Linked DNA regions of Homo sapiens: regions 1 and 2 are each reported to be linked to region 3. Evidence: microRNA targets listed by miRTarBase, many of them from high-throughput screens and not tested one by one. Region 3 holds a microRNA gene; each other region holds the end of a gene's coding sequence.
Evidence for each region. The annotated mature microRNA hsa-miR-628-3p reads UCUAGUAAGAGUGGCAGUCGA and lies in region 3 at 3,677-3,697, shown strand. An mRNA with a match to its seed (bases 2 to 7 or 8) in the 3' UTR can be bound and repressed. Matches are read on the target gene's strand: a 7mer-m8 pairs with bases 2 to 8, a 7mer-A1 pairs with bases 2 to 7 and ends in A, and an 8mer does both.

Region 1: the mRNA of FBXO21 is a reported target of hsa-miR-628-3p. Seed matches in the 3' UTR shown: 8mer at 1,895-1,902.
Region 2: the mRNA of RUNX2 is a reported target of hsa-miR-628-3p. The part of its 3' UTR that is shown has no 7-base or 8-base seed match.

What each region holds. Positions count from the first base shown.
Region 1 is chr12:117,141,356-117,146,355 of GRCh38, reverse strand. It overlaps FBXO21 (F-box protein 21), which reads left to right. Exons shown (of 12, transcript NM_015002.3): 12 at 79-4,365. The coding sequence ends at 269. TESC-AS1 (TESC antisense RNA 1) reads right to left here. Exons shown (of 3, transcript NR_120464.1): 3 at 4,867-4,965. Among named protein-coding and RNA genes, the nearest start is that of TESC-AS1, 44 kb to the right of the region's middle. RefSeq lists enhancers at 2,885-2,964, 2,365-3,564.
Region 2 is chr6:45,546,400-45,556,263 of GRCh38, reverse strand. RUNX2 (RUNX family transcription factor 2) reads right to left here. Exons shown (of 9, transcript NM_001024630.4): 9 at 5,182-9,437. The coding sequence ends at 8,959. Among named protein-coding and RNA genes, the nearest start is that of RUNX2-AS1, 25 kb to the left of the region's middle.
Region 3 is chr15:55,371,651-55,376,650 of GRCh38, reverse strand. MIR628 (microRNA 628) reads left to right here and starts at 3,617; the gene lies at 3,617-3,711. It overlaps CCPG1 (cell cycle progression 1), which reads left to right. Exons shown (of 9, transcript NM_001204450.2): 6 at 4,607-4,858. DNAAF4-CCPG1 (DNAAF4-CCPG1 readthrough (NMD candidate)) reads left to right here. Exons shown (of 16, transcript NR_037923.1): 13 at 4,607-4,858.

The DNA.
Region 1 (5,000 bases), not on the chromosome of region 3:
ATGGGAGGTTCTCTGGATGAAAGGTGTGGCAGCAATGGACATTGTAATGAGAATGCCCGTGTGCCTCTTTACCAACAGAAAACTTGGAATATAACGTGGAGCCTCAAGAAATCTCACACCCTGACGTGGGACGCTATTTCTCAGAGTTTACTGGCACTCACTACATCCCAAACGCAGAGCTGGAGATCCGGTATCCAGAAGATCTGGAGTTTGTCTATGAAACGGTGCAGAATATTTACAGTGCAAAGAAAGAGAACATAGATGAGTAAAGTCTAGAGAGGACATTGCACCTTTGCTGCTGCTGCTATCTTCCAAGAGAACGGGACTCCGGAAGAAGACGTCTCCACGGAGCCCTCGGGACCTGCTGCACCAGGAAAGCCACTCCACCAGTAGTGCTGGTTGCCTCCTACTAAGTTTAAATACCGTGTGCTCTTCCCCAGCTGCAAAGACAATGTTGCTCTCCGCCTACACTAGTGAATTAATCTGAAAGGCACTGTGTCAGTGGCATGGCTTGTATGCTTGTCCTGTGGTGACAGTTTGTGACATTCTGTCTTCATGAGGTCTCACAGTCGACGCTCCTGTAATCATTCTTTGTATTCACTCCATTCCCCTGTCTGTCTGCATTTGTCTCAGAACATTTCCTTGGCTGGACAGATGGGGTTATGCATTTGCAATAATTTCCTTCTGATTTCTCTGTGGAACGTGTTCGGTCCCGAGTGAGGACTGTGTGTCTTTTTACCCTGAAGTTAGTTGCATATTCAGAGGTAAAGTTGTGTGCTATCTTGGCAGCATCTTAGAGATGGAGACATTAACAAGCTAATGGTAATTAGAATCATTTGAATTTATTTTTTTCTAATATGTGAAACACAGATTTCAAGTGTTTTATCTTTTTTTTTTAAATTTAAATGGGAATATAACACAGTTTTCCCTTCCATATTCCTCTCTTGAGTTTATGCACATCTCTATAAATCATTAGTTTTCTATTTTATTACATAAAATTCTTTTAGAAAATGCAAATAGTGAACTTTGTGAATGGATTTTTCCATACTCATCTACAATTCCTCCATTTTAAATGACTACTTTTATTTTTTAATTTAAAAAATCTACTTCAGTATCATGAGTAGGTCTTACATCAGTGATGGGTTCTTTTTGTAGTGAGACATACAAATCTGATGTTAATGTTTGCTCTTAGAAGTCATACTCCATGGTCTTCAAAGACCAAAAAATGAGGTTTTGCTTTTGTAATCAGGAAAAAAAAAAATTAATGAACCTTAAAAAAAAAAAAAAAGGTTTTGAAGGGAAAAAAAGTGGTTTCACACCTCTTGTTATTCCTTAGAGTCACTTCAAGGCCTGTTTGAATGTGGCAGGTTAGAAAGAGAGAGAATGTCTTTCATTTGAAGAGTGTTGGACTTGTGTGAAAGGAGATGTGCGTGTTGGAATCTGCTTTTCCAAGCCGCCAGGGTCCTGACGGCAGCAGGACGAAGCCTGTTGTGGCGTCTTCTGGGAAAGCCTGACCGTGTGTTCGGACGGCACTGGCTCCTTTCCGAAGTTCTCAGTAACTGAGCCCAGAGTAACTGCACGCCTTTGTGCAGCTCTGGAGCTCCACCAACTCTCGGCCTGCCAGTTCTCAAGCGAGCTAATCTTGTCATTAATCGATAGAAGCTAACTTCCGAAGTTAGGACCTAGTTACTTTGCTCTCAACATTTAAAATAATGCAGTTGCTCTAGTGAATGGGGCGTTAGGGGCCTGTCTCTGCACCTGTCTGTCCATCTGCATGCAGTATTCTCACCCATGTTGAATGCCTGCTGCTTGTTTACCCTTTGGAAACCCTGGGGTGACCAAGGTTTGGAAAGCCACCTGAGACCACTTCATAGCAAGGGAAGGCTTTAAGCAGTTACTAGAAAGAGATGGGGATTTGGCCCCTGGCTCCTCCAGCCTGAATGAGCTATTTAATCCACTGTCCATGTTCCTCATCAGTCAAATCCAAAGTCAAAGGATTTGAACCTGCATCTGGAAACGTAACCACTCACAGCACCTGGCCCGCCAAGGTTGGGAGGATTGTACACTACTTTCATTTAAAGGGGAAAGTTTGATAATACGGAATTAATTAATATGAATGAGATGCATTAATAAGAACCTGAGCATGCTGAGAGTTGCAATTGTTGGTTTTCTGGTTTGATTGATTTCCTTTTTTCTTAGACACATCAAAGTCAAGAAAGATGGTTTTACCTTTACTGACCCAGCTGTACATATGTATCTAGACTGTTTTTAAATGTCTTTCTTCATGAATGCTTCATGGGGCTCCAGGAAGCCTGTATCACCTGTGTAAGTTGGTATTTGGGCACTTTATATTTTTCTAAAAACGTGTTTTGGATCCTGTACTCTAATAAATCATAAGTTTCTTTTTAAAAATTTTCCAAAACTTTTCTCCATTTTAAAAAGCCCTGTTATAAACGTTGAACTTTCACAATGTTAAAATGTTAAATATTTGGATATAGCAACTTCTTTTCTCTTCAAATGAATGCCAAGATTTTTTTGTACAATGATTAATAAATGGAACTTATCCAGAGAAACCACGCAAATGGCCTGCCCAATTTCGTTTGAGGACAGAAAGCCCAGCCATGACTTGAGTAGAATGTCTCTCACCTCTCTTCGGATCTAAATATGAAAAGTATGTTCTGCTGAATTTTTCTGAGCATTGGTGAGCGGACAGCCTACCTGTAAACCATGACCTCCTTGCCAAACGTTAATTTTATCAGCTCACTAGTAACCTTTGAGAATTATCTGGTTGTCATGCAAAGATTGCACTTTCTGAATTATGTTAAAACACATGTTGTAAAATGAGAACTGCTCATGCTTTGAAAGAAAACCAGGTTCTTCGTGCGTTCTGTTGCCGTTGATTTGAATGGCTGTGCTGTATACGATGTGTCCAGAATGTCTTCAGAGCACTGTTTCCGTGTGATGTTACTACCTACTATGTGGGAGGAAAAAAGGTTATAGGTTAAACAAAGTCAATTGACTCTATGGTGGTGTTTCTCAATACCTGTGACGCACAGTACTGTGCGTCGTGACTTTCTAAGAGAAGTGTGCAGCGGGTGTGTCATCTTGATATATGAAACCCTGGAATTTCCCTCCCCTACACGCACGCACCGTCCCCGGGGGTCCGGTGTTTGCAGACATGCTTTGAAAAGCTGTCTCAGTGAGACATCAGTTATGTCCAAAATGAGTTTACCTTAGAATCAGACCGGTTTTGCCAGGCGTCATGTTTGCAAACATTATCCACCTAATCAGATTTTGAAAGGCCGGCTTTCATGTCGCCTGCCTGAGACTCATAACAGATCCCCATTATAAGCGCGTTTACACAGCAAAATGATTTTATTGAGAAAACCAGCATTAAGTACTGTTGCCGGCTCAGTTTTCCATTGCATACTATCTACTTAAAGTCCCGTTCTCATTTGTAAGTGTTCCGATCTTTCCCCACGGAGAAAACTGAGCAGAGCTGCCGTGTCGCAGGCTTTCTGCTGCTGATGTCGCATCTCTTTGCTTTCCCCTCCTTAGTCCATACTCCAAGTAAGTGAACTCAGACTACCAGCAACTTTTTAACTGAAAAGTATCTGTCCATGATGATCAAGATGCAGCTCTTCGTGTTTTTATTTTGTCTTTTTTTTTTTTTTTTTTTTTTGGAGGGAAGGAGAGACATCAACTGGACAAAATGCAAAATTTGGATGTGGGACAATTGCTTTTTGGAGACGTGAATAGCTGTACTGTACGTATTATTTTGTGTGGCATGCTAACTTTGAGCCGGGCACTGGCCTAATAAAGTCTTTGTAATCCTCCCAGCAATCCTATAAAGCAGACGCAGATAGTAAAGATTTTAGGCTTTGCAGGCCACGTACAGACTGTCACATGTTCTCTGTTTTTAAAAGTGTCAACAACATTCTTAGCTCAAAAACAGGCTGCAGGTGGGATGGTGCCCACAGGCCATAGTTGGCTGACCCCGGCTAGGGTGTAGGCACTTAGCATTCCACTGTATAAAGGGGAAACCCAGGTCATACTGCGTGTGCGTGGGTGGGAAGCCGGATGTGGAATACAGGTGGTCCCTGAGTCTCCAGGAACCACTGAGCTCCAGCTGTTCACACCCACACTCTGCGGCGCAAGCAACTACCTCGCCACGGTTTAGCCTTGGTCTAGCAGCGACTTTAACCTTGAATGTTGCATTTCTGAAAAATTTAGAATCTTGAAAGTAAAGGACGTCCCTCCGGTGAATAAAATTAGGCGCAATTATAGAATACATGTATTATGGCCACGTAGCAATGACTGTATTAGGGCTCTGCTAGTTCTGTAATAAATAGACCCGAAAAGCAACAATGGCTCAAACACCATAGAACGTTTTTGCTTCCATAATATTGGGCAGGGGAATGGGCTGGCAGGGCAGCCCTTATGCAGGCAGGCATCAGAGCAACCTGAGCCGTCCATCTCCATCCCGCCTGAAGTAGCGGGGAGCATGGAGGGCTGAGACCATCTGGGAGCTTCCATGAGCCAGGTGTGGAAGTGGCACCCCTTATGTCCACTCATTTTGCACGGAGGTGGGAAACGTCCAGTTGTGTTCTAGGAAAGGAGACAGAACACAGTGTGGGTGGAAGCTCTGGTCCACTGCACGGGCCACTCCAGTGTGCTCCTCCACCGCAGGAGACAGCCACGGACAGCTAAGCCAGGCTGTCCGTGGGGACGGACACATTTCTGCAGTCTCCGGCTCAGTCGCCCCTGCCTAAGTAGCACATAGAGGCAGTGGAGTTCCCTTCAGATGGCACTGTCTGTGTACACTCACGGTCTCCACCGCAGATGGCTGCAGCAGCGGGGAGCAGACCTCTCACCGCGTGGGTCACATGCACTACCTCTGCCTCAACAGCCAGATCTCAAGTGGCCGGCCACACCTTCGTTCCAGAGGAGGTGCCAAATGGTTTCCTGTGGGCCCGAAAGGAAGAGAAAAGGTTTGGTGG
Region 2 (9,864 bases), not on the chromosome of region 3:
CATTTTAAGATTTCCTGATGCATCCATCACTTGCAGCGTGGTCAACTTTTTTTCTGAAACAGGCACACACAGGCAGAGCATATTTTTTCCTTTCACTGGGAGGCAGGAATGACTGGAGTTGTTCAAACACCGGTCCGTTCCTGCAATTCCTATGATAAAGTTGAACTACCAGAGGAATTTTTTTTTTTTTTTTTACAACTGCGGAAATGAAAAAGTAAACAAGACTGGGACTGCATTGGTATTTAGGCTCCAGCTTTTTGTTGTTGTTTTTGTCTTTCCCTTTTTTTAAGCCATTGGGCTAGGAGCCTGAAGGGACCATATAATATGAAAAACGCTGAGAGGTTTTATTAGCCAATAAAAAAAAAAACTGAGTTCCTATTAACCACTTAACTCCTTGCTGAAGTTCAAACTTGCTTTCTCCTTGGATCCTTCTCTCCCTCTCATGCCCACGAGGAATGACGGTTGGTTCACCAATCTTTCCCTGCACAACCTGAGCTCACAGTTTGTGCTCCAGAAGGTGTGGTTGAGAATCGTATTCAATAATAATCTCTGTATTTCTCATCTGTGAAGCCATAAATAAGATTTCTGTAAGGAGCCAAATGTTCTACGCCCCCAAATCTACACACACAAAGACTCTTTAAGCACTCTACTAAAAAAGAGTAAAGTCATTGTGATTTCTAGGATTTTAAATACTAAATGATGGTTAGGGAGAACAAAATCAGGCTGAAGCATTTCTGGGATAAATAATGATCCCACAAAACGCTCCTCTCATTTGGGGGCAGAAGAATGAAGGGAAACTCACAGAGAAACAGAAAATGAAATTGGTCCAACTATTTCACTGCTGGAGATAGATGGAGTTAGGATACATAGGTGACTTGGTTTAGGAAAGAGAGGATGTCGAAGGTGATTTAAATCCTAACACTGTTTTATTAATCGTGCCACAATTCTACATGTCATGTGATTTTGTTATCTGCTTTTTGCTGCTTTTAAATAAATTTGTACTTTTCTATCAATCCATCATCCAATTGTGTTTCGGGTGTTCTTGGCATTCCCATCTCTCAAAAACACCCTTAGTTTCTGCCATTATATACTGTATCTCTAATTCCACGAAGCTCACTCTATCCTATTTCCATTTTCCACATTCGGGTTAACTCTAGTACTTTTGGTCCTCCCAGAGAAATTTCCTAAGGCCACATGAGCCTGTGCGCTTTTGTGTTCTGGTCCCATTTAATGTTACTGCTCCAAGAGCTACTCCCTGAAGGGCTTATGTGGAAGAATTTTGCCTTTTTGTTAAAAGTATTTTGCTCTATGTCCTTGATTTCTTTATAAGAATAGCAGGTGGGGGAAATTCTTCCCTTTTTATTGGCTACAGAGTGGGACAGAATGACCTGGAAAGAATAGATAGCAATCAAGAAGTGAGCTATGTTTGCAGTGCTAAAACAGGAAGCAAGTTTTGCAGAAAACCCCACTAAGTGGCCTGACATCAATGCAACAAGATAATAAGAAACGAATTAAAAGACATTTTGGTAAATGTTAAATGTGTTTCCAGAAATTTGATCCCTCTGCTTCCCAAATGGCTGAGCATATCTGAATAGCAGGGCTGGATTGAGTCACAAACTTTTGAATAATAGCTTTACAAAAATTACTAAAAACTCCTTAAATGTTAGCTTCTCCCTGCTCCCTTAATTGACATATCAAGGAGCATCCAGTGTCCCTTGTCCCAGTAACCTATTTGAAGACAAGTAATTGTTTCTTTATCACTTGTGGGATAAAGGCAGTACTTTTTTTTTTTTTTGAAGAATTTGCAGAAATAAAAAACTGAGGCCAAGAAACACTGTGTCTCCTGAGTACATGTGCAGGGGTGGTGAGCCCCATCTTTCTCTGAGTGGGTGGCTGTTCAGGTACCCTTTCCAAACTTCACCCTCCTCCTTCCCTCCCTTCAGGCACACACATACCTGTGTGTGCATACACATATACACACATACACACATACACCACACCACACACAGACACATACACATGCACCACACATATACACACACATGCACATACATACACATGCACACACACCACACACATATACACACACATACACATGCACACACACACCACACATACACACCACACACACATACACACACCACACACACACATACACATGCACACACACACCACACACATACACACCACACACACACCACACACATATACACACATACACACACCACACATGCACACATACACACATAGACACACACCACACACCCGTATACACATATACACACACATATACATATACGTGCACATACACACCACACACATACACACATGCACCACACACATAAATACACATACACACATGCACCACAGACACATATACACACACATACATACACCCCACACACACACACACATACACCACACACACGCCCACACACACACATCCCTGGTGTATTACCCTTTGCGTCTTCACTGGATCCTTTTCCTTGGTAAGTTTTGATTCATAACTTTTTAAAATTTCCTTTCCAAGGCCTCCTGATTGAGTAGTTACCGCTGAGAAGCCCCTAAGAAGACACAAAGAGGCTTCTCAGGGTCCACAGCAATGGTGGTGAGGAAGGAAAGACTCCCTTGCCTTTGCTCAGAACCCAGAGTTTAAATCAAGAGTATCAGCTCTCCACATACTGGTTCCTACCTGGCCTTTCTTAGCACCTTTTCCGGGCCAGAGGAGAGAGACAATGGAAGAGCCGAGAAGGGTTGGGAGCAATTTGGAGTATACCTGGGGTGCATAGGCCTAGGGTGTAAGCCTGATTCCCAGTACCAATACCTGGACAGCTCAGGTGTTATGAACTCTTGCATGAAGATGTCCTTTCCAGCCTCACAGAAACTGACTAAGGAGTGAATGCATGAGAATTTGCTTGGGATTTTCACAGGTGAGCTGGCCCACACTCACTACAACTGGAGCAGTCAGTTGAGTTGTCCTCCACTTCCCCAGAAGAACTTAGAGATGGTGACACTGTTTCATAAGCATCCTTTTTAGATACCTCCAAATTGTTGCTTCCTAGGACTGATCTCTAAAATAATTTTCGAATAGTTAGGACAGAGAGGCCAACTGATAGCATTTCTTATTGTTAACCTGGTAATCTAGGTACAGGCAAGCCAGTACCTCCATTTCTGCAGTGGCTCTTGGCTAGGTCATTATTGTTTACCAACCATTTCCAGAGAGAATGAAAAATTAACTAATAAAGAGCTGTAGGACCTGCTCTCACTGACTGCCAATGAGGGCTTCCCTGACATCCTCCCTTGCCTTTCATACTGTTTTCAAGTCCCATAAATATAAACATGCGGCTCTTCCACTGCGTCTGTAGATAATAACTTCAGGGGCCTTCCTGTTTACATGGCAATACCCATTTCCCAGCCAAATAAACTCTATGACAGAGACCTGAGGTGTTTATTGGGCCAGTCCCGGCTGGGATTGAGTTAACAGGAAACACCCACTCTTGCAGAAATGCCTGATGATTAAATATTTGGGGGATAGGGGACACCAGGGGTCAAAAACACTGCAGAAATTGCTTTCTTCTTCCGCCTGCCGTTTCAGTGAGAAACAGGCCATGATAAATATGGCCAACCAATCCAGGCTTAACAAAGCCCCACAGCTGGGCTGTTCACTGGCTGCACAGCCCATGTTGCAGAGAGGAGTGAAGAGGTGCAGACGAAAAAGCCAACAGCAGCCCTCATGATACATCCAAATCAAGTGAAGGGATGGAAAAGGTTGAGGTGTAGCCATCACTGGGAAGTCCCTCAGCCTCTGCCTGGCTACTCTGATTTAATAAGCAATGTATTCTCATATCAGTTCTGTCAATAAAGCCTCTAGCTAAGTGGTTCTCAATCGGTGGTGATCTTGCCACCCAGGGACCATTTGGCAACATCTGGAGACATTTTTGATTGTCCTAACTAGGGAGGTGCTACTAACTTTTAGTGGGTAGAGGCTAGGAATGCTGCTAAACATCCTACAATACACAGGAGAGCATCCCTGACACACACACACAAAAAGAATTACCCAGTCTGAAATGTCAATAGTGCCAAGATCTAGCCCAATGCCTTTTCATAAACCAAGAAACTGAGACACAGAGGAATAAAGGGATTTGCCCTAGACCATCCTGATAGAGAAAACTGGAGACAGAAAGCAAGCCACTGTGACCACCTCCCTTGTGAATGCCCTTTAAAGTCACACAGATGTTTGATTTTTTTTTAAATAAATAAATCTACATCCTCAGAGTTGCAGACAAGTTCCCTGGCTTAAGCTCACCCAAGTGCTTTCAGGACATTTCCTATTCTTGGAATTTAACTATTTCCAAGATTTCTTAGAAAATAGTGCCAAAGGGTTAAGAATGAGCAGATCTTCAAGGTCTCTAACTCTCCCTGTGATGTGGGTCAGCTTGGCCACTGGCTGACCTTCTCTGCACCATGTTTTCCTGGGTCCCTATTTTAGAATTGTGGTGAGCCCAAGCATTCAGAAAGCATAGGACACAGAGAAAGCAACCTTTCTACCCCAGGTCTTCAACCTTATCACAAGGGGGGGGACTTACCAAAAATAAACAATGGCCACGGGAAAAAAAAATCTCCAAACTATAGTTATGTTCACTAGGAGAATTCTTCTGAGGCTATAGCCCTCCAGGCCAAGGTCCGTTTTTACTCATCCTTGGGCTTTGGTTGACTTTATTTTTAAGAACCCAAAAGAGATGTGGAAAGGAAAACAGACTAGCCTATATCTGGGCTGCCTGAGATCTTCTGTTGATAGCCAGAGGTTCACTTGCGGGGCCCTGTTCATGTTCTCAGAGATTAGAATCATGAAGCCATCGAGACTGCATCTATACGCCTGATAGGTCCCCCAGTTGGAATAAATGGCCTTACTCAAGGATGAGGTGAGCACTCCTTCCTTCAGACACAAGCTAGTAAGGAAGTGAGTTCACTGCTAGATTCTTTGCCCACCCCTCGCTAGGAACAGGACAAAACAAGAAGACACCGTTTACCAAGATTTTTTTTCTTCTCCCCAGTAATATAGCATCTCTTCTCTTAACTAGCCCTGGCAAGTCCTAAGACCAAACAGTGCCCAGGTGTAAGCAGGAGTAGACATCAGACTAGGGAGAAACCGTGAACAAGAAAAGACCCAAGGTACACACATAACAAAACCAAAAAAGCCATTTTATTGAAAATTAAATTCAAACTTCAAATTAATATTACAATCATGAGAAAAATGCCAAATAATTCAATTTACAGTTGCAACATACAATACAAATAGTCCCTTTGAAGTTAAGAGTAAACTCATCCACAATCATGACCTGTGGCACAAAGCGGAATTTTTACAATATGTGCATGGAAAGCAATTCTTGGGCAATAGCAATTGGAAAAAATAAAAATGAAAGCTTGTATTTACACAAAATGCTACAAATATTTTTGTTCCACAGAAACCTAAGAATGGTAAAGCATATCCAAAAGAAATGGAATTTTATTCAGAATACCTAAGAAATTATTGTAAGTTATGGTTTTGGCTGATATATTTCAAAGTACTGCATTAAAAAGCAAACAGTTATTTGTAAACATGAAGTAAACACACATCTAAAAAATTCTCACATAGAAAATATTTTTAAATGCATTCGTTTTCTAAAAACAACAAATTCAAGGTTTGGAAGAAGTGTCTTTTATTATTGTTCTTTCAAATACCATAGGTATAATTATTACTTTTGCTAATGCTTCGTGTTTCCATGTATTAACCTGGATTCTGGGCCAGTCCCTTTCCTCGGAATTGAGGGAATCCTTAAAGCTGTACACACATCTCCTCCCTTCTGAATTTATCACAGATGGTCCCTAATGGTGTGGACTTCTCTGCTCATTTTGAAAGGGCTCTGGCAAGTGAGAGGCAGTGAGACCGTCTAAAGAGCAAACGATAGTTAATCTGTTGAGTTTCTCAGTTCTGGGCTGAATGTTATTCCACTAATCTAAAACCAAAGCTGTGGTACCTGTTCTGGAACTCTGATATGGGTTAAAATTTGTGAGACAACTGAAATGGATAAAAATGTGGCTGCATTGAAAAGACTGCAAATTCCAGCAATGTTTGTGCTACAAAGAGAACCACGCTATTTTAATTCCCAGGAACTAGTACATGGTTCCACAGTAGTAGTAAGACTTTGCTTTGGTCTTGAAATCACAAATCAAACACATGACCCAGTGCAAATTAAGGGTTCAGTGAAAAAAAAAAAAAAAGAAAGAAAGAAAAACAAAATTTTAATCCCTAGACCAAAAAAGGGCAGAATTTGTTCTAAGAAATGTGAATTACCCCCATTGGGGTGGTTGGAGTGAGGGTGGAGGGAAGAAGTGCTTGAATTTTTCCCAAGGAAAAAAAGCTTCTAAAGTGTTTCTGGGTTGCTGCCTGCAGCCACTATAGTAACATTTCAACACAAAAGCATCCCTAAAGTCACTCGGTATGTGTACTGTAAACTTAAAAAAGCCCTTTTAACATTAAAAAATAATGTACAAATATAGTACCTTTTTAATTAAATAGGATGCAGCTGGCACTGGCGGTAGCATTTTTATGTCAATTAATTAAAATTGAAATGTGTAACCAGACACTGGCTTTTTTAAGTGCTGCTGAAACAAACACACATATTTTACACTTACAAATAAATGGACAGTGGTGTGCTTCAAGCTACCACACACAAACAATAAATAGTATCAATTACTACTTCCTTCTTACTTAAGTAATAGAAAAGTGGCTTATTTATCTAAGCATACTTGGTATACGGCCTTTAGAAGGCAAAGTGTTTTGCTTTCCCATCCATTTTTATTAGAAGGAGTCAGGATGAATTCCAAGGGAGACTCCCAGGCAGGAAGCACAGGTCCAGCTGCCCCACACGCTGTCCTGCAATGCTGGGTGGCCTACAAAGGTGGGTTTGAGAAGGACCAGAGAACAAGGGGGCCGTTAGGGTTTGAAGGCAAATCTCTGCTAAATTCTGCTTGGGTGGGTGGAGGATTCCAATGAAGGGACCCTGACTTTTCGGGGAGGAGAGCAGGGATTGGCCTGGTGGTGTCATTAGATGATCCTTGTTTGGATTAAGGATTTGCACTTGGAAATCTGCCATGTGACTGCCAGGAGTGGTCAAAGTGCATGCCACAGAAGGACTCTAGCTCAAATTCATACACACTAGTAGACACCAAACTCCACAGCCCCTTGCCCTCCTTGGCCCTCCATTGTAAGAAATACAAATGTCAAAGGCTGTCTGTAGGTCCCCGTGGGCCATATGTCCTCTCAGCTCAGCTACCTGCTGGAACCTGCTGCCTTTTCAGAGGACCTACTCCCAAAGGACAGTGATGTCATTCTGCTCCTCTAAATGCAAATTCTGTGGAAAGCTGCCAGTGGGGCCTTGGGTAAGGCAGATTGGGGTTCCCCTGTTGTGTTGTTTGGTAAGGCTGGTTGGTTAAGAATCTCTGGTGCAATTTTGCTCTCCTGTACTAGGTGTCTCATAATTGAACCCTCTATCCACATGTGCGGCTTTTAGCTGACTATGTCTTTGCTATGAAGCCTGGCGATTTAGAGTTTTGCTTAACTATGAAACCACAGAACATTTTTCTGTAGTTCAATGATTTACTTGTGCTTGTCTTTTTAATATGACAAGAGTCATAATTACCCCAAAGAAATTAGAAAACCACATCACTCCAGCATTTCATGCTGATAAAGGGCTAAAGGTTGTTTTTTAAATCCCTAATTACCGCTTTAGAAGGCAAAGCTGTGTTAGAGGCATTCAAAGATCTGAAAGAACTAAACATAACATTTCCTTCATACATCACAAAAACAATCTATATCTAAAATATTTGGAGATGGAAGTATTTTTTAAAATCACATTGTGCCTGGATGAACTGAAATTGCTTAGCAATATTTCAGATATGGCTCTAGACCACTGAAGAAATTTGTTATTTAATAAAGAGCACTTTTAGAGACCGAAGTCAACATATCAATACACTAAGAAATGTTTCAAGGGTCCAAATGTCATTAAATAATTATAAATATATCTTTAAAGTTATATGACCATTCACGTTAGCAAGTTACCTCAGATTTTACACATATTCATAATTTAAAAAAAAAGAAAACAACACATAGCCAAACGCAATCACTATCTATACCATTATGGCTATAATAATGTATTGCCATTTTCAGTTTTGCATAAAAGGAGAAGGCAGGTTTTAGGGATGGGATTTCTTTTTGGTTCAGTGGGAAAAGGGGAGAAGGAGTGTTAAAAAGTAAAATAAAATAATCTATCCTGATCAGTTATTTTTGAAGTCACTTTCTTGGAGCAGGAAAAAAAAAAAAAAAAACGAACCCAACAGTTCAGATGAGGACCTGCAGCATGTCTGAAAGCAGAAATTGGAAGAGTTATTCTGAATGATGGTACTGTGATGGAAGCATCCATTCTACCTCATGTCCCTTTAGTGCACCTCAACTGGTTTTGTGAGCTGTCTGCGGAGGGCACTGGTCCATACACAGCTGCCACCGTGAGGGTGTGAAGTTTCAAAGCACAGAGAGGAAGCGGCTTTGCTCTTCTCCCTCCTGAACCTGGAGTCCACCTCTCTGAATTGGCATATGAACAGGTTATTGATGATAACAGACCAAACAACAAAAACAAAAATACCTTTTCCCTTCTTTGTTCCTTTGTAAAAGTACATCTTAAATAGTAAACAATCTGAAGCTCGATTGCAATTGTCTCTCTTGAGCCTTCTGCTTCTCAATATCTACCCTCTTATGGCTGCAAGATCATGACTGAGTGAGTGAATGAAAAATCTTCTAAAAAATAGGCACTTTGTAGATAGCTAATCGATATACATATATATGCACTCTCTCTATATATGTATATATTGATACGTGTGGGATGTGGCCCCCAGATACCACTGGGCCACTGCTGAGGAATTTCAATATGGTCGCCAAACAGATTCATCCATTCTGCCACTAGAATTCAAAACAGTTGGGGAACTGCTGTGGCTTCCATCAGCGTCAACACCATCATTCTGGTTAGGCAAATTTGGATTTAATAGCGTGCTGCCATTCGAGGTGGTGGTGCATGGCGGAAGCATTCTGGAAGGAGACCGGTCTCCCCCCGGCACCATGGGAAACTGATAGGATCCTGACGAAGTGCCATAGTAGAGATATGGAGTGCTGCTGGTCTGGAAGGGTCCACTCTGGCTTTGGGAAGAGCCGGGGTAGGGTGGTGGCAGGTAGGTGTGGTAGTGAGTGGTGGCGGACATACCGAGGGACATGCCTGAGGTGACTGGCGGGGTGTAAGTAAAGGTGGCTGGATAGTGCATTCGTGGGTTGGAGAAGCGGCTCTCAGTGAGGGATGAAATGCTTGGGAACTGCCTGGGGTCTGAAAAAGGGCCCAGTTCTGAAGCACCTAAAAATTATAACAGAAGATGGAGGGAAAAATCTGTAAATATCAATTAAAATAATGATAGAATTGTTACAAGAAAAAAAAAGAGAAAACTTTAGCTTTCCCATAAAGGAACAGCAAGCCACAGACAGACCTTCAAATGCACCAGTCACTTTACAGTCTTTTTCCCCCACTTTGCAGTCTTAACAGCATTGATCCTTAAGTTCTTCACCCCCAGAGAATCCCAGAGGGCTTTAAAAACCCACATGTGTGCCAGGTCAATGTGTAAACCAACCCAACACTCTGATCACATAGGTTCACTCACCAGACTTTAAAACCAAATCCTCATGGATTTTTTTTCTCTTTTTGCTTCTCGTTGCACTTTAGATATTTGAAGTGAAATTTTTACTAAGTCAGACAAGTTTATTTTCCTCAACTCAATATAAAGAAA
Region 3 (5,000 bases):
TCTTTAAGAGTGGGAGATTGGGGATGTTAATATTTTTGCTTGCAGTAGTGTACATTTTGTAATATAGAAATAGTGAAAAAAATTGTTATTAAAGTCTCTTCAGATATATTCAATTATTAATCATGCAACAAACATTTATTGAGTACCTACCATATGTGAAACAGAGTTCAAGGTGCTATCAATACAGCTAGTCTTCCAAAGCTCGTGACCTTCAGATCTTTTGTTTTAGATTCTGTTATGAAAATGTCACTAGTGTAAGCCACATTTTTAATGCAATCAATGCCCGTTGTACAGACAGACTCATTCAGAGATTAAAGTGTGAGTTGCTTGATTTCTTTCTGCTATGCTTCAGCTCAGTTTTAGCAGTATGTATAACATCTTTTAATGTGATGTAAGTATGTAGGTATAAAGTTCCTGGATATATCAGTTATTAAGCCACAATTATAACTAAGCGTGAGTTATGGCAGAGACAACTTGAAACACTGCTAGTGATTCTAAAAATTTCCTAATTTGACGAAGAAACAGGAAACAGGTAGTATCTATTTTAGATAATTTTTTTAGATTTTACCATTCTTTAATATTTACATTTGCCAACCAGAATCAGACAATAGAATTTCTGTCATTCCAGTTTAAGCTAATAAAATGTCAAGTAGAGGTTCTTGGCTGGGCATAGTGGCTCATGCCAGTAATTCCAGCACTTTGTAAAGCTGAGGCAGGTGGATTACCTGAACCCAGGATTTCGAGACCAGCCTGGGCAACATAGCGAGACCTCATCTCTACAAATAATAAAAAGCCAGGCATGATGGCGTGCGCATGTGGTCCCAGCCACTTGGGAGGCTGAGGTGGGAGGATTGCTTGAGCCTGGGAGGTTGAGGCTGTAGTGAGCTGAGATTGCGCCACTGCACCCAGATTGCCAACCTGGGTGACAGAGCAGGATCCTGTCTCAAAAAAAAAAAAAAAAAGTAGAGATTCTTGGCTATCTCATTTAATGAGAAGTTATTTTCAGTTAGTATATCAGTGGTTTGCCTATAAACATGAACGTGAAAACACTTTTTCCAGCTATTTGAATATTCATGTGACATTCTTGATGTTCAGAGGAAAACTTCAGGCTTTGTTAGAATAGCATTCATAGTATCTTTATTTATGGAGGGGTATTGTAATTGATTTTAGAATCCTTGTTAGTCATCAAATTTTATTATTATTTTTTTAAACTCCAGGATTTGTGTTGTATTCAGGTAGTTTCCCCACCCCCGCTTCCTTTCCTGCCTCTGGTTTAATTAGAGAATATTCATGGCCCAGAAAAGTCAAATTGAAGCCAGAGTATTATAGAATGGTCAGATATATAAGAAACTGACATAGACGTAAAAGGAACTACATACTGTTGCTGGGCGTGGTGGCTCACGCCTGTAATCCCAGCACCATCTCAAAAAAAGAAAGAAATTACATATTAACTTTTTTCAGGAAGTTGTATAGTTCTAAGACCATTCTTCTAATATTTATCTTCTTTCTGAATTCTGACTTCTTGAGATTTTTGTGGACTAAGAGGAATATTTGATTAACTGTATTTTTACCCATTGTTATTCCTCCTAAAGATATTGTTTCAATAAACCAAATGTTTAAAGACGAAATTTTGGACTATACTGAAAACACTGCATATAAACCAGTTGCCAAAAGTTTTTGTTTTGGGGCCGGGCACTTTGGCTCATGCCTGTAATCCCTGCACTTTGGGAGACTGAGGCAGGCAGATTACCTGAGGTAAGGAGTTTGAGACCAGCCTGACCAACACGGCAAAAACCCTTCTCTACTGAAAATACAAAATTTAGCCAGGTGCCTGTAATCCCAGCTACTTGGGATTAGCTGCCTGTGGTAGCGCAGGCCTGTAATCCCAGCTACTCTGGAGGCTGAGGCAGGAGAATCTCTTGAACCCAGGAGGCGGAGGTTGCAGTGAGCCAAGATTGCGCCACTGCACTCCAGCCTGGGCAATAGAGGGAGACCCCGTCTCAAAAAAATAAAAAAGATGGTTTTTGTTTTTCCCTTTTAGTTTGTTAATTTTGTGCTAGCCATTGCTTAATTTTGTTTTTTCCTTTCCCTTTCTTCATCCTTAAGGATTTCAACTTCAATTTTTTCTTCTCCTGACTTATATTCTTGTGGCAGTGTACGTTTTGTTGGGTTAAGAACACTGCCTGCTTCCTCTTTATGAACTCTCTTCCCTGACAAAAAGCAAAGTTGGTAGTGTAGAGAAGTTTGTATTGTGTGTTTTTAAGAAGGCATGGTTATTACGTTTTAATTTTGTACGGATAACAATGTTAAGTGATAATTAAGTATTTTTAATTCTTTTTTTTCTTTTTAGTCTTTATAATATAGCTTTATGCCTCTTTTTTTCCTGTTTATTCACAAAAGAAAGGTGGTGGGAGAAGCTGTGGAAGATTCCTGAGTGCATATGGGGATGGGATGATCAGCTGAAACACCATGTTCCTAGCCAACTCGCTTTCCAAGGTGGTGTGACTAAATCTGACCAGCTTCTCTAGAGCTGAGTGTGCCTAGTCACATTTACTATTTACCGAGTGCTTTAAAGATACCTGTTGTCATCCGCAATACTCTAAACAGGTGTTCAGAATCTCTTGTAAAGGAGCTGGCCAAGCTTATTGCATGCCTTTGCATTGCTTGCATCTATGGGCCAAATTAAGCTTTTTTAAAAGAAGTTAAAAATCAAAATATTTCAGCTATTATATGTATGGGTTAAAAAAGTTGGAAGCATTAGATAAGGACATGAATATATTAATGTGGGTTAGGCTGTTTTGTTAGAATATATAATGAAGGTAATGTTAATGTAGAATTGAACAATTATTTAAATAAGTTTTACAAATGGTTTGTTTTTACATTTACCTATCTTAATTTTATGTCAGAAAGCCTGACTTAAATACTCTAACCATGATCATGAATGCCTTTGTATTATGTAATGCTTTGTTTAAGTCTTCCTTTCTTTCTCTTTGTCCAAGAAATATAATCTCACACCTGAGGCGACGGCATCTTTGAAAAACTAGTGATCAAGAATAACCAGATAAACATGATGGGCATAAGGGTCATGACCAAAAAGATCTCTCAGTGGCATCTGTATCACTAAATATTAGGAATATTCATTCATTTCAGTAGTGCCTTCTGTCTTTGTGTTTATTGTTGTAAGTGTGAAAGTGAACTGAATACTCCATGATCCATCTCTGAAAAATATTGCCTAACCTAAATCACCAGCTTTCCTGTGGCATGGATATCCTGTCTTCTGAAGAACTGTTTTTGCTTTTCTGGAGCATGAATGTTTGTTGTTTTAGAGCTCTTTGTATTCGAGTTCATATTTTATCCTTATTTTTAGTGCTTTTCCTCTAAGTAGCTTGTGGAAATTATTTCTGAGTAATTGAAGCTTCTGTGTCAACATAATAGTTTGTTGACATAAGAAACAGTGTTAAGAAATTATGCATTTGGAAAAAACTGAAGGTGATTTTTTCCAGGGAATTTGTTTCCTGGACTTGGGATTTCTTGTGCAAATTTTCCCCACTAGTTTGTTTTTCTCTACTATTATTTTCATAAAGGAGCAGCACCAGAATAGTCCTTAATATCGGAGATAGCTGTTGTGTCACTTCCTCATGCTGACATATTTACTAGAGGGTAAAATTAATAACCTTCTAGTAAGAGTGGCAGTCGAAGGGAAGGGCTCATCTGACTTCTGGAAACCTATGTTAAAATACAGTGCTTTGAACCTTGATCATGGGCTAATTAGGTTGGAAATGAAACTAGAGACCAGATACACCCAAGGAAACTTTTGGTAGTTATTTTACTTTATAAGTCACAGGAAATGCTTGTGTACTTTCCTGTGTTCCTTAAATAGTTGCACTTAAATTACCTCTTTGAAACTGAATGAAGAGACAGAGAGTATTTTTTTTCTTTCCAGAAATAATACTTGTTTATACCTGTAATAGCAATGAAATTTTGTTTCTTTTGAGACAGAGTTTTGCTCTGTCTCCCAGTCTGGAGTATAGTGGCAGGATCTCAGCTCACTGCAACCTCCACCTCCCAGGTTCAAGTGATTCTCCTGCCTCAGCCTCCCAAGTAGCTGGGACTATAGGTGCACTACCATGCCCGGCTAATTTTTGTATTTTTAGTAGAGAAGGGGTTTCGCCATGTTGGCCAGGCTGATCTCGAACTCCTGACCTCAGGTGATCTGCCCGCCTCGGCCTCCCAAAGTGCTGGGATTACAGGCGTGAGCCACTGCTCCTGGCCAGCAATGAAACTTGAGGCTATGCGAATGAAGGATTGTTCTAAGAGTGTAAACTATAAGGCGAGGAGGATTAAATAAAAAAACAGAGATAGGCTCTCAAAGCACCAAATAGTATGATTAACAGATTCTTGTGTATCACATTTGAAATGCTTTATGTTTTGGCTTTATGTTGATGAGTTGAAAACCCGTGTTTTTGTTTATGTTGTTTGGTTTTTGTTTTTGGCTATCTTATGTAGAAAGGCATGTAAGGGATGGCATTGATTATTCTAAATAATTTTTACTGGGAAAGCTTTTCCAAGATTTTGAATAGCTAAATGTCAACTTTTTTCTTAATAGTATTTTCATCTCAGCCTAGTGACGATGAATCAAGTAGTGATGAAACCAGTAATCAGCCCAGTCCTGCCTTTAGACGACGCCGTGCTAGGAAGAAGACCGTTTCTGCTTCAGAATCTGAAGACCGGCTAGTTGCTGAACAAGAAACTGAACCTTCTAAGGAGTTGAGTAAACGTCAGTTCAGTAGTGGTCTCAATAAGTGTGTTATACTTGCTTTGGTGATTGCAATCAGCATGGGATTTGGCCATTTCTATGGTAAGTACTCAAAAATGTGTTATACATAACCTGATGGGATAGTGTAGAGGAACTTAAGAGTGAGGACTCTTGGGATCTGTTTTCAGTGCCATTATTAAATGTGTGGCCTTGAAAACTTGAAGCCTGTTTGAGCCTCAGTTTT